2 separate regions of the Homo sapiens genome follow, and region 2 is linked to region 1. The links come from fine-mapping of genetic effects on gene expression. A gene starts in region 1. The other region holds a variant in brackets. All regions are shown on one strand. Distances are from middle to middle.

Region 1 (5,382 bases):
ACACAGAGGAAAGACCATGTGAGAACTCAGTGAGAAGGTGGCCATCCACAAGCCAAGGACAGAGACCTCAGGAGAAAACAAACCTTCCAACACCTTGATCTTGGACTTTTAACCTCCAGAACTGGGAGAAAATTAAGTTCTGTTGTTTAAGCCCGGGGCCCCCAACTCCCGGGCCATGGACCAGTACTGGTCTGTGGTCTGTTAGGAACCAGGCCACACAGCAGGGACAGAGAGAGCACGAAGCTTCATCCATATTTACAGCTGCTCCCAATCATTCACATTACCACCTGAGCTCCACCTCCTGTCAGATCAGCAGCAGCATTAGATTCTCATAGGAGCACAAACCCTATTGTGAACTGCGCATGTGAGGGGTCTAGTTTGCATGCTCCTTATGAGAATCTAATGCCTGATGATCTGTCACTGGTTCCCATCACCCCCATATGGGACTGTCTAATTGGAGGAAAACAAGTTTAGGGCTCCCACTGATTCTACACTGTGGTGAATTGTGTAATTATTTCATTATATATTACAATGTAATAATAATATAAATAAGGTTCTCAATAAATGTAATGCACTTGAATCATCCTGAAACCATCCCTACCCTGGTCTGTGGAAAAAAGTGTCATCTACAAAACTGGTCTCTGGTACCAAAAAAATTGGGGACTGCTGGTTTAAGCCCCTCAGTCTGTGATATTTTGTCATGGCAGTCCCAGCAAACTAATACGGCACTGCTTAGATGCCAGGGAACTAAGGAAGGAGTCTTATTAGGCAACCAGCTTCAAGGGACCAGCAACTCAGAGATCCCCAAAGATGAGAAATAATGGTGCTCTCTGAAGTATCCACAAGATTGTGCCTAGAGAGAAAGAACTAGGTTTACACACCCACCAGAACCTGCCACTGAAATGCCAGCTTGCCACAGCATTAACCAAGTACGGACTTCCAGCTCCTTTCCTGCCTCTTCTCTTTTCCCCTTCCCCCTGCCAGGAGTCAGAATCATCAGTAAGCCAGAGGAGAGAAGGATGGAAGCTTAACGTGGGAAATGAGAAGCCAACCACAGACCCCCTTTCCAAGCTGCAGGCCCCACTGGAGGAGGGAGAAAAGTCTCCACTGGGAACCAAATTCAAAGATCTGGCTGATTCCCTGGGACTGGACATCCCAATTGCTGAATGAGGCTGTGCTGGAACTAAAAGCGACTTAAGAACTTTTGATTCCTGAAGGGGGCCCATAAGAGTTGTGGACCTACCTTAATTTTCATCCCAGGGCAAGGGAAGAGGGAGGACCTGCTGAAAAAAATTAGGGACAATGATAGGCAAAAATAAAGTTTGCTTCCATAATATACCATGAGTCCTGTGTATTTGACGTATGTTCTCTTACATATGAGGCAACTTAGCCTGGTCTCTGGCCAAAAAAGAGATACCACTCATTGAGCAATTCTTACCCTTTCAAATTCCTTCACTGTCGTCATTGAGCAATTCCATCTTCTTCAAGCAAGACAAAAGCTGATGCCAATAGAAAAATCATTTAAAATAAACAAACGAAAAAATTCCTTAAGCTGTCAACTTGGGTGCAGATGTTCTATGAAGCCAGAAACTGAATGTCACCCTCTATACACCATGACCTAGAGAAGCAGAATAACTCCAGACCAGCAGGGCTGGGCGGGTCTAAGATTCCCATACTACTTAAGAGAAAACTGAATTCAAATCCAGGCTCTGCCATTTAACAACTGTGTGACCCCGGGTGAATGACTTAAATTATCCGTACTTCAATTTCCTCATCCATAAAATAGAGATCATAAAGTATCTATCTGATGAAATAGCTGCAAAACAGTTAGAATGCTGCCTGGCACAGGGCAAAGGACTCACAATACACATAGCTATCATCATATATCATTGCCTCTCAAAGTGAAATATTGTGATGACCTTGGTTTATTAGCAGGATGTTGTAAAAAAAAATGCTTTACAAGGGGCATGATGACGAAAAGCGCAGATTCTAGAACCCGACTCCCTGGGTTTGAAAGAAGCAAGAATCTGAGGCATGTTGTATAAGGGTTTGCTATCATTACTATTCATTCAATGAGAGACATACAGTAATAGGTATACATATGCAATACATAGAGAAAGAGCTTAGTACTAGCAGCTATTATTAAGGCAACAGCCACCTCAGTAAATCTACATGGGCCATGAAGACCCTGGTCACCCAGAGATATCAGAGGCACTGAACAGGGCCAGACAGACAGAGGGTATTTTTCTAACTGGGAGGCTGCTGAACTTGACCTCTGTTGCTTTTCATTATTTATTTAACAGCAGATGGTGGCTTTCAAGAAAATCGGATGTCTTGAAGCCAGAAACCCATCCTCCTTGGGCTGGATACTCAGCCATCCCCTGCAACCCCACCCCCTAGCCCCAAGCTCTCATTGTCTCTCTTGTGTTACCTGGTCTGGTTTCTTCTTCCAGGGCAGGTCCCACCTTGCTGGGGAGAGGTGAATGACCATGGCCTTCCAGCCTCCCGAGAAGGGGATGTTCCAACGGGCGCAGAGATCTCTGGGCCTGGCTTGCCACTCACTGACCTGGGGCCTGAAGACTGACAGAGAAGCAGGCAGAAAATATAAAAAGCTGATACCCCCTGCAGGAAATCATTGTTTAGCCCATTCCAGACTAAAAAAACAAGTGCAACATTGGAGAAAGGAGGGTAAAGTGTCATTCGGGGCCATTGTTACAGCGGCTGCTCTGTGTGGTGGGGAAACAAAGCAGGCCTGTGTATGTGAGGACAATGCTGTTGTGTTACTAGCTGCTTCTGTGTTACTCCTGGGGACAGGAGGATGAGAAACGAGGCCACAGTGTCTTCCCTGGTGGACTTCACTCATCATAGTAGCCAGGCCAATCAGAGCTGGGAGAGGAATTTTGGACATTTAGCCCATGGCATTATGTAATAAGGGTCAGGGGACGTGCCTTCAGGTGTGACCACCTGCCTCTTTGTTAGTCTTCTATACATGAGAGATCACAAATGTCCCTCTCCTTTTCTCTTACTTGCTTTCAGAAACTTACCCCAAGTTAGAGCTGAAAAGAATGAGACATATCATTTCTCTAAACACAAATGTCATCCACTTCAATGCCTAACTTTTGTGATGGGACATCTGGCTGGGACTAAACCTCAGCCATGCAGCACGTTAGCAGCAGTTGGCAAGACTAGATGAATATTATAAAGCTTGCACCCACTGAACCCCCATAATGAACCAGACACTAGGTCATGAGCAACCTTGCAAAATGACCTCATTCGCTCCTGACTTCAAATTCTGACTCTGCAACTATTACCCATGGACTGTGAGCAAGTGTTTTCTCTGGGTGTTAGTTTTCCCATCTGTAAACCGGGATTATGATTGGGTTCCTAGGAGGATTAAATGAATTAATATATGCAAAACTCTTAGAACAGTGGCTGGCCCATAAAAGTGATCAAGAACCACAAATCACAAATTAGATGCCCACATTACACCTGAAACTTGCTTGTACTCATGAGGAGATGGTATGGGGATGGCTGGAAAGCCAGGATCCCAAGTGTCTGTATTTAGCCCTGTTACCTACTATGGCCTAAGTTCACCCTGTTAGGTCCCTGAAGGAATTGGGCACTAATAAATATTCTCAAGTATGAGACAGGTGACAAATGTGTGGAGAGGGCCCACTGTGATGCAACAGTGTGTGGCGGGAACTGTGGGGATTTGAAAGCTCACACCAGTCTTCAGAGGGCAGCCAGGGCTCAGCCTCAGCCAAATACTGCAATGCAGAAAGGTGGAAACAGCATGGTTGGGCCTGCACATTTTTAAAGAAAAGCCAGAAGGCTGGATTTTTTATGTCGAGTTTTCCAATTTTGAAACACTGTGGACCAAACACAACATTGTTAATGCAATGTGAGCCCTAGATCATGCAGTTTGTGATGCCTGATCTGGAAATTTCCAGATTTCCAGCATTTCCAAGCCAGTGCAACCCTGCTGACACTCAGAGCTTTTGTCCCCAACTTGCGCTACGGTCTGAGTGTATGCGTCCCCCACAAATTCATATGCTGAAATCTTCACCCCCAGGTGATGGTATTTGGAGGTGGGACCTATGGGGGGTGATTAGGTCATGAGTGTGGAGCCCTCATGAATGGGATTAGTGCCCTTATAAAGAGGCCCAAGAGAGCTCCCTTGCCCACAGCCACCATTTGAGGACACAGTGAGAAGACACCATCTGTGAACCAGGAAACCGTCCTCATCAAACATAGAATCTGCCAATGCCTTGGTCTTGGACTTCCCAGCCTCCAGAACTATGAGCAACACATTTCTGTTGTTGATAAAGCCACCCAGTTTATGGTATTTTGTTATATTAGCCCATATGGACTAAGACGACTGGTGAGCTGATCAGGCCACGTCAAAGCCACAAAGGGGGCATAAAGTCAAAAAGATTGATCAGCCCTTTCCCCCTGCAACCCACCCTCATCTCTGGACTGAGACAAAGGTGAGGAAAAGGGAAACTAGGGGAATAACAGGAGGGTGGCAAGGGCTCTCCTTAAAGGACTGCAGGACCCTGGGCCTAATCCACCTCCTGCAGGCATTCCTCTGACAAAGAAGGCAGCCAGGACTTAGTAGTGAAACCAAAGGGGAGAATAGGAGTTTATTTAAGCTTCCATAACCTTCATCAGTTACCTCAAATGAACCAAAGTAGCGTAAGTGACAAAATGTGTTTGCTATGCAAATGCACCTTAAAAACAAGACTGCTCACAATGAGATACCACTTCATACCCGCTAAGATTGCTATAATCAAAAAGACAGAACCAGTTACAAAATGTGTTTGATATACCAATGCAACTTCAAAACAAGACGGCTCACAATGAGATACTACTTCATACCCACTAGGATCACTATAATCAAAAAGGCAGAGCCAGATGCAGTGGCTCCCATCTGTAATCCCAGCTACTCAGAAGGCTGAGGCAGGAGGATCGTTTGAGGCCAGGAGTTTGAGACCAGCCTGAGCAACATAGCAAACATATGTTTTAGAGACAAAACATATTTTTTGTCTCTAAAACAAATAAAATCAAATTAGCTGGGTATGGTTGTGCATGCTTGTAGTCCCAGCTACTCAGGAGGCTGAAGTGGGAAGATCAGTTGAGCCCAGGAGTTTGAGGCTACAGTGAGCCATGATTACACCACTGTACTCCAGCCTGGGTAAAAGAGCAGAGACCCCCATCTCTCTGTCTCTTTTTTTTTTTAAACAAATGTTGGTGCAGATGTGGAGAAATTGAAACCCTTATACATTGCTTCTGGGGACTGTAAAATGGTGCAGTCACTTTGGAAAATGGTCTTACACTTCCTCAAAAGGTTAAACACAGAGTAATCATATGGCCCAGAAACTC
Region 2 (5,382 bases), 110 kb before region 1:
CGATTCCTAATACCTAGGCCATAAGCTCCTTTGAGGCTCAGGCCTAGAATCTGGCAGCCTTCCTTCCGCTTTTCCCACTCTATCCTAGGGTTGCTGCCCTGTCAACAGAAAAGCAATTACTTGTTAGAACAAACAATCATCATCATCATAACGAATAATAAACAAATTGCTCCTAGGATGGAACCCGGCATTTTTTTCTCCAATTAAAGTTTATTGAGCACTTGCTGGGTGCTGGACACCACTGTCAACAATGTAGGCGTTCCCACATTTAAGCCTAAAACAGAACTGTAAGCAGCAATAATATCCTCAATTTTAATATACAAGGAAACTGACCCAAGCAAGCACAGGCCAGAGATAACAAGTGTCTTGTTGAGATCAGGGAGCCCAGAGCTGCCTGGCTCTGCATCCTGGCAGCCACTTAGTAGCTGTTGTTAGCAATGACCCGGGAAAATTCACTGATTCTTCATACTTCAGTTTCCTCACCTAGAATGTGGGGAGGATAAGGATACCTACTTCACAGGATTACTGCACAAGTAAAATGGGTTAATCCTCATCAAATTGCTAGAACGCTGCCTGGCCCACAGCAAGGCTTGGCAAGCATGAGCTACTATGATTTCACCCAGGACTCTGAAGCCCTGGGTCTTGAAAACTCCAGCCCACTGCTTCTCGCATCTTCCTACAAGTATAGCCACACTAGCATTTCCTACACTGGGATTGAGGACCCAGGAGAAATTCATAAAGCAGGTAATATGTTAGGTAGGGCCAGACTAGCTGATGAAAGGATAAGAAGGTAGGAAGGTGGAGGCAGAGCTTTGGAGAAAAGAATTGCCGGGACGTGTAACTGACATGAAAGCAACCCCTCAGCCTCAGCAGCCCCCATATGCCATCTGTTTCACATATTGGACTTCCATGCCTGGTTTCATTTGAAAACAGAATTCTGCTGCTACCAACCACCACCACAAGCCACTGAGCTAGAAAAAGGGAAGCCGGGAGCTGAGGGTAATGTGAAGGGGACACTTACACGGGGCCTGACCAAAATGAGAAACTGGGCGTGAAGTTCAGCCAGAAGCCAAAAGGAGCCATAACAGGGGGAAAAAATGGGGAAGCACTGACTGGTCTACATTATCTCACCCTTTCTCCCTCCCAGGCTGACCAGCTGAGACACCACCCCAGTTGACAGGATTTCCTGTTATTACACAGACCTGCGATCTCACGCCTCACCGTCTTGTCAACTCAACTTCCCACTTCTGTGGGCTTAAAGGTAAAGGAGGCATTACTAAAAGCTGGAATCAAGCTGGTGGAGAGGCGCAGGGACAGCAGGATGGCAGCAGAGTGGGCAAGCGCGGAAGTGACAGAGGGAAATCACCTCGGATGGAGTCAGTCTGCCTTGCACACAGAGAAAGACCCAAGGTGGCAAAATCCCGCTGCTTGTCCCAACTCTCTTCCCACATGAGGTTAAAGACGATGAGGCAGCTTGCAAGAAGTGCTGCAGGTTAGCCAAGATGAGTTGGAATAACCATATCAGTAGTTAATATTTCTGCGCCATCTGGCAAGTAGGGTTTGCCCCAAGTTCTCTGGCCCTGCACCCTGGCCCTTTGGTGAGATCCGCCCAGACCGCCTCAAGATCCAGGAACAGCAGGGGTCCTCCAGAGTCCTGTGCCCAGTGCTGTAGCTGGTCAGTGCCCATCTAGCCTGACTGCTGAATGCTCTGAAATCACCCACCTCACTTCTGCAATAGGATATGTTTCAAGGAGGCAGCTTCTCTTAAGCAGGAACAGATAGAAAGGCCCCCTCCCCTTCTCTGGTCCATTCCATGGGAGCCCATGGGAGGTGGTGTCCTTGACTCAGGACATGGAGTACTCACACCCTTCGGGTGTCGGCATCCTAGTGGGTGGCAGTGGGAATAGTGAGAAACATGGAGGAAACTGACGAAGAGCATTTATTGAGCTCCTAGTTATGTGGCACACTATGCTCGGCAGTCTGCACACAGAATCTCAAATTCTCCAACAGCCTCACAGGTAGGAGTGTATCCTCATTTTGCAGATAAGATCGATGCTCAGAGCTTTGCCAGGGGCCATACATTGGTAGATCCCAACTCAAATGGAGGCCAACCTAATCAGGCAGTGGTACCCCCCATGCCACAGGGGCAGGCAGGCAAAGAAGGGAGGCAAGTGAGTGTGTACTGTAAGGACCAAGAAAGTCCCTCTAAAGCCAGCAGCCAGGCCTCAGCTCCCCTGACAGGCTCCACACCAGACCGTGAGTCCAGTGCCCAGATCTGACCTTTCCAGAGAGGCCGGAAACCTGGAGTTCTAGGTGAGATGTCCAGATTTCTAAACAACTTTTAGGCCAAACCACATGCGCCAACCCCATGGGTTTCCAATCTGCCATTTCTAACAACCCTTCTTAACCTGAAAGCCAAGTCTGTTTCTCAGCCACAGCAGGTACAAGGTAGTAACACATCATCAGGCAGAGTCACCCAGACCAAGAAGAGCCCTCATCTTAATCCCTCCAAAACTAGGCTCCTCAGAAGGGCAATGCCCCCCTTACCTCATGATCTATTCATGAACCTATGTCCAGGTACATCAAGCCCAAATCTGGATAATGCCAGCTCTGTGTGGCTCTTGCAGCCCACTTACTAAGGGTTTAAGCATGTGGGAGGCTTGGGTTCAAATCCCAGCTCAGGCACTTACTGGCTACATGACTCTGGGTGAGTTATTCCACCTCTCTGTATCTGTACTTCCTCCTTGTAAGACAGGGATACAGTATCTATCTCACAGGGTGTGGGGAGTTTTAAAAGAGTTGACACATATGAAGCACTTGGAACCTGGCATATACTAAAAGGCTAAGCAAGTGTCTGCAGTTATCATTACCTCGTGGCATCAGGCCTGGGACTGGTCTATGGCATCAGCCTGTGAGCTGGATCCAGGCTCACCTTCCTCCCGTCCCCTCCCAGCTCTTCCCCCCTACTGTGGGTCCCCCTCTCTTACAGTCAACACTCTGTTAAAGAGATGGAAAAATCGGAGGTGGATTTCCCTTTGGGTTTCAGGCAACCAACTGACTCAGAAGGAAGATATTTCAACTCAGACCTGTCAGAGATCAAACACAATTCTTGGAACCTCCTCTTTCCTTGAAAATCTCTGGGGTTTTCTTCACACCACCTCCCCCCTCCCAACAAGAACAGAAGCAGGGTGGTTGGAGAGAGAAGGAAAATGTGCGTTTCCTGTCTCAGGCCGGCTGCAGATAACTGATCTCTGGTTTCC[G/A]GAAACTTCATCTCTGAGCATTTATTTCTGCCGAGAAAAAGTCCTCCCAGGGAGTTTGAGGAGGCAGGAGGGCATGGAGTGAGTGGTGGTGGCAAGAACGTTAGATCCTCAACTGCCCTTTCTGCCTGCTCCCACTTCTGATTTCAACTTGGATATCATTTTCTCCTAGGTCTAATTGTGTGCCCATCCTCCACATGCCCCCAGCACTCCAGATTCCACCATCACCCCTCTAAAAGCGTTGCCTGAGAACTACCTGCCCAGTTCCTCTCTCATTCTGCTGTAAGATCTCCAAGACACAAACCACCTACTCAATGACCACCCCAGTATACAGCCCAGTACTGGGCAGAGCACTCCACATTTATTCAATAAATAAATCAATGAATCAATGGCCCCTGCTTCGACACACACACCCCAACACTCAAAGACTGAAAGCACTTATAAGAACATTGGCAAGCAGGTTCTTCAAAGAACCAGCAAACATCAGTCTTGCTTTTTTCACACTTTTCTAATTCTTCTCGGTTACATAAAATCAGTGGGAGAGGTGGCAGAAAAGACTGTTTAGGGAGAGTGTGCTCTTGTGTCAGCTTAGCTGCTCTTGTTCTTGGAAGGGCTCATGAAACCCAAACCTCTAACCCAGACTTTTCCTCGCTGCCAAAATGCAGCCACATCAGGGGTGAGGCTGGAGAGGGGTGTTAAAAACCGCACTAACACCCCATTGAGAATTCAAAACAAGAAGACTCCCAGAATCAGCCCGAACTCTGGCAGATGGAAATTTAGGGAAGCCAGAATTGTTGATTGGGATGCCTGGGGATTTAGCTAGAATACGTCTATTCTGAAAGGTCATTTTCTTGCCTTGAGAGATATTACAATGTGCAAGCTGTGCCTAAGGCAGTTTCAATGGGAAATATTCTGATTTATGGTTTTCATATCAATAGACCATGTGCCCTGACTTTTACATGGGACAACATTGGCCGCTATATTGAGGTGAGACGTTTCTGATGGATTTTTTTTTTTTTTGAGACAAATTCTCTCTCTGTCCCCCAGGCTGGAGTGCAGTGTGGCACGATCTTGGCTCACTGCAACCTCTGTCTCCCAGGTTCAAGCGATTCTCCTGCCTCAGCCTCCCAAAAATAGCTGGCTGGGATTACAGGCGCACACCACCACACCTGGCTAATTTTTGTATTTTTAGTAGAGTCAGGGTTTTGCCATGCTGGCCAGGCTGGTCTCAAACTCCTGACCTCAGGTGATCCACCTGCCTTGGCCTCTCAAAGTTCTGGGACTACGGGGTGAGCCACCGCACCTGGCCTGACAGATTTATTCTTAAAGGGTGGAGAAACCTGTCTTTGGATCCAATACTGTGTTTTAGAATTTGACCATCCTCAGTCCCAAGTTCTTCCTCATAATTACTTCAAAGTCTATCTGCTAACATTTAAACTAGAGTCTATTTTCAAAGACATGTCTTAAATGGAAAGGCCACTTATAATAATGACTGCATTACAAGACTCAGTTACATAAAACATCTACCTTCCTAGTCATCCTTTGCATTGGCTACTATTTAAATAAATTTGTATTTCCCAGGTACATACTAACCCTACAGATAGAAAGTGGCCAGGGTGGCTGGGATGAGTGACCCAAAGAATCTGATTTAGGCTTTGACTCCAGACTTGGATACTCCATCAAAAAGTTTATTACCATTTGGGTTCAGTAGAATGGAGAACTGAAAAAGTCATTTCCTCTTGTTCTTTTCTCTGTGGAAAGGAGAAACAGCTGGCTCTCCTTGTAAGAACTTAGCCTCACCCAAACTTCAACTCCAGGCACCACTCTTTGAGGATTCTGTCCCAGACTCTCTAGTTCAAAGTGAGCTCACCTCATCCAAACTGCTGGAGAAGTTTTTTCTGAGACAGGATCTTGCTCTGTTGCCCAGGCTGGAGTGCAGTATGCATCATCACGCCCAGCTTTTCATTTTATTTGTATTTTTTGTAGAAACTGGGGTTTCATTAAAGCTGGTCTCAAACACTTGGACTCAAGCGATCCTCCTGCCTCAGCCTCCCAAAGAGCTGGGATTACAGGTGGGAGCATGACACCTGGCCTGGAGAGGGTTATACACAGCACTATTCATGGG

What was found. PIP is the estimated chance that this variant, and not a neighbour inherited with it, causes the effect.
Region 2: its variant is fine-mapped to the expression of PRR5L in whole blood (TOPMed, PIP above 0.99).

Annotation. Positions count from the first base shown.
Region 1 is chr11:36,293,488-36,298,869 of GRCh38, reverse strand. It overlaps PRR5L (proline rich 5 like), which reads right to left and starts at 2,582. Exons shown (of 9, transcript NM_001160167.2): 1 at 2,432-2,582.
Region 2 is chr11:36,407,177-36,412,558 of GRCh38, reverse strand. All of the region lies in intron 3 of PRR5L (proline rich 5 like), which reads right to left. Among named protein-coding and RNA genes, the nearest start is that of TRAF6, 100 kb to the left of the region's middle. RefSeq lists an enhancer at 1,026-1,320. The variant G/A (reference allele first, on the strand shown) is at 3,261.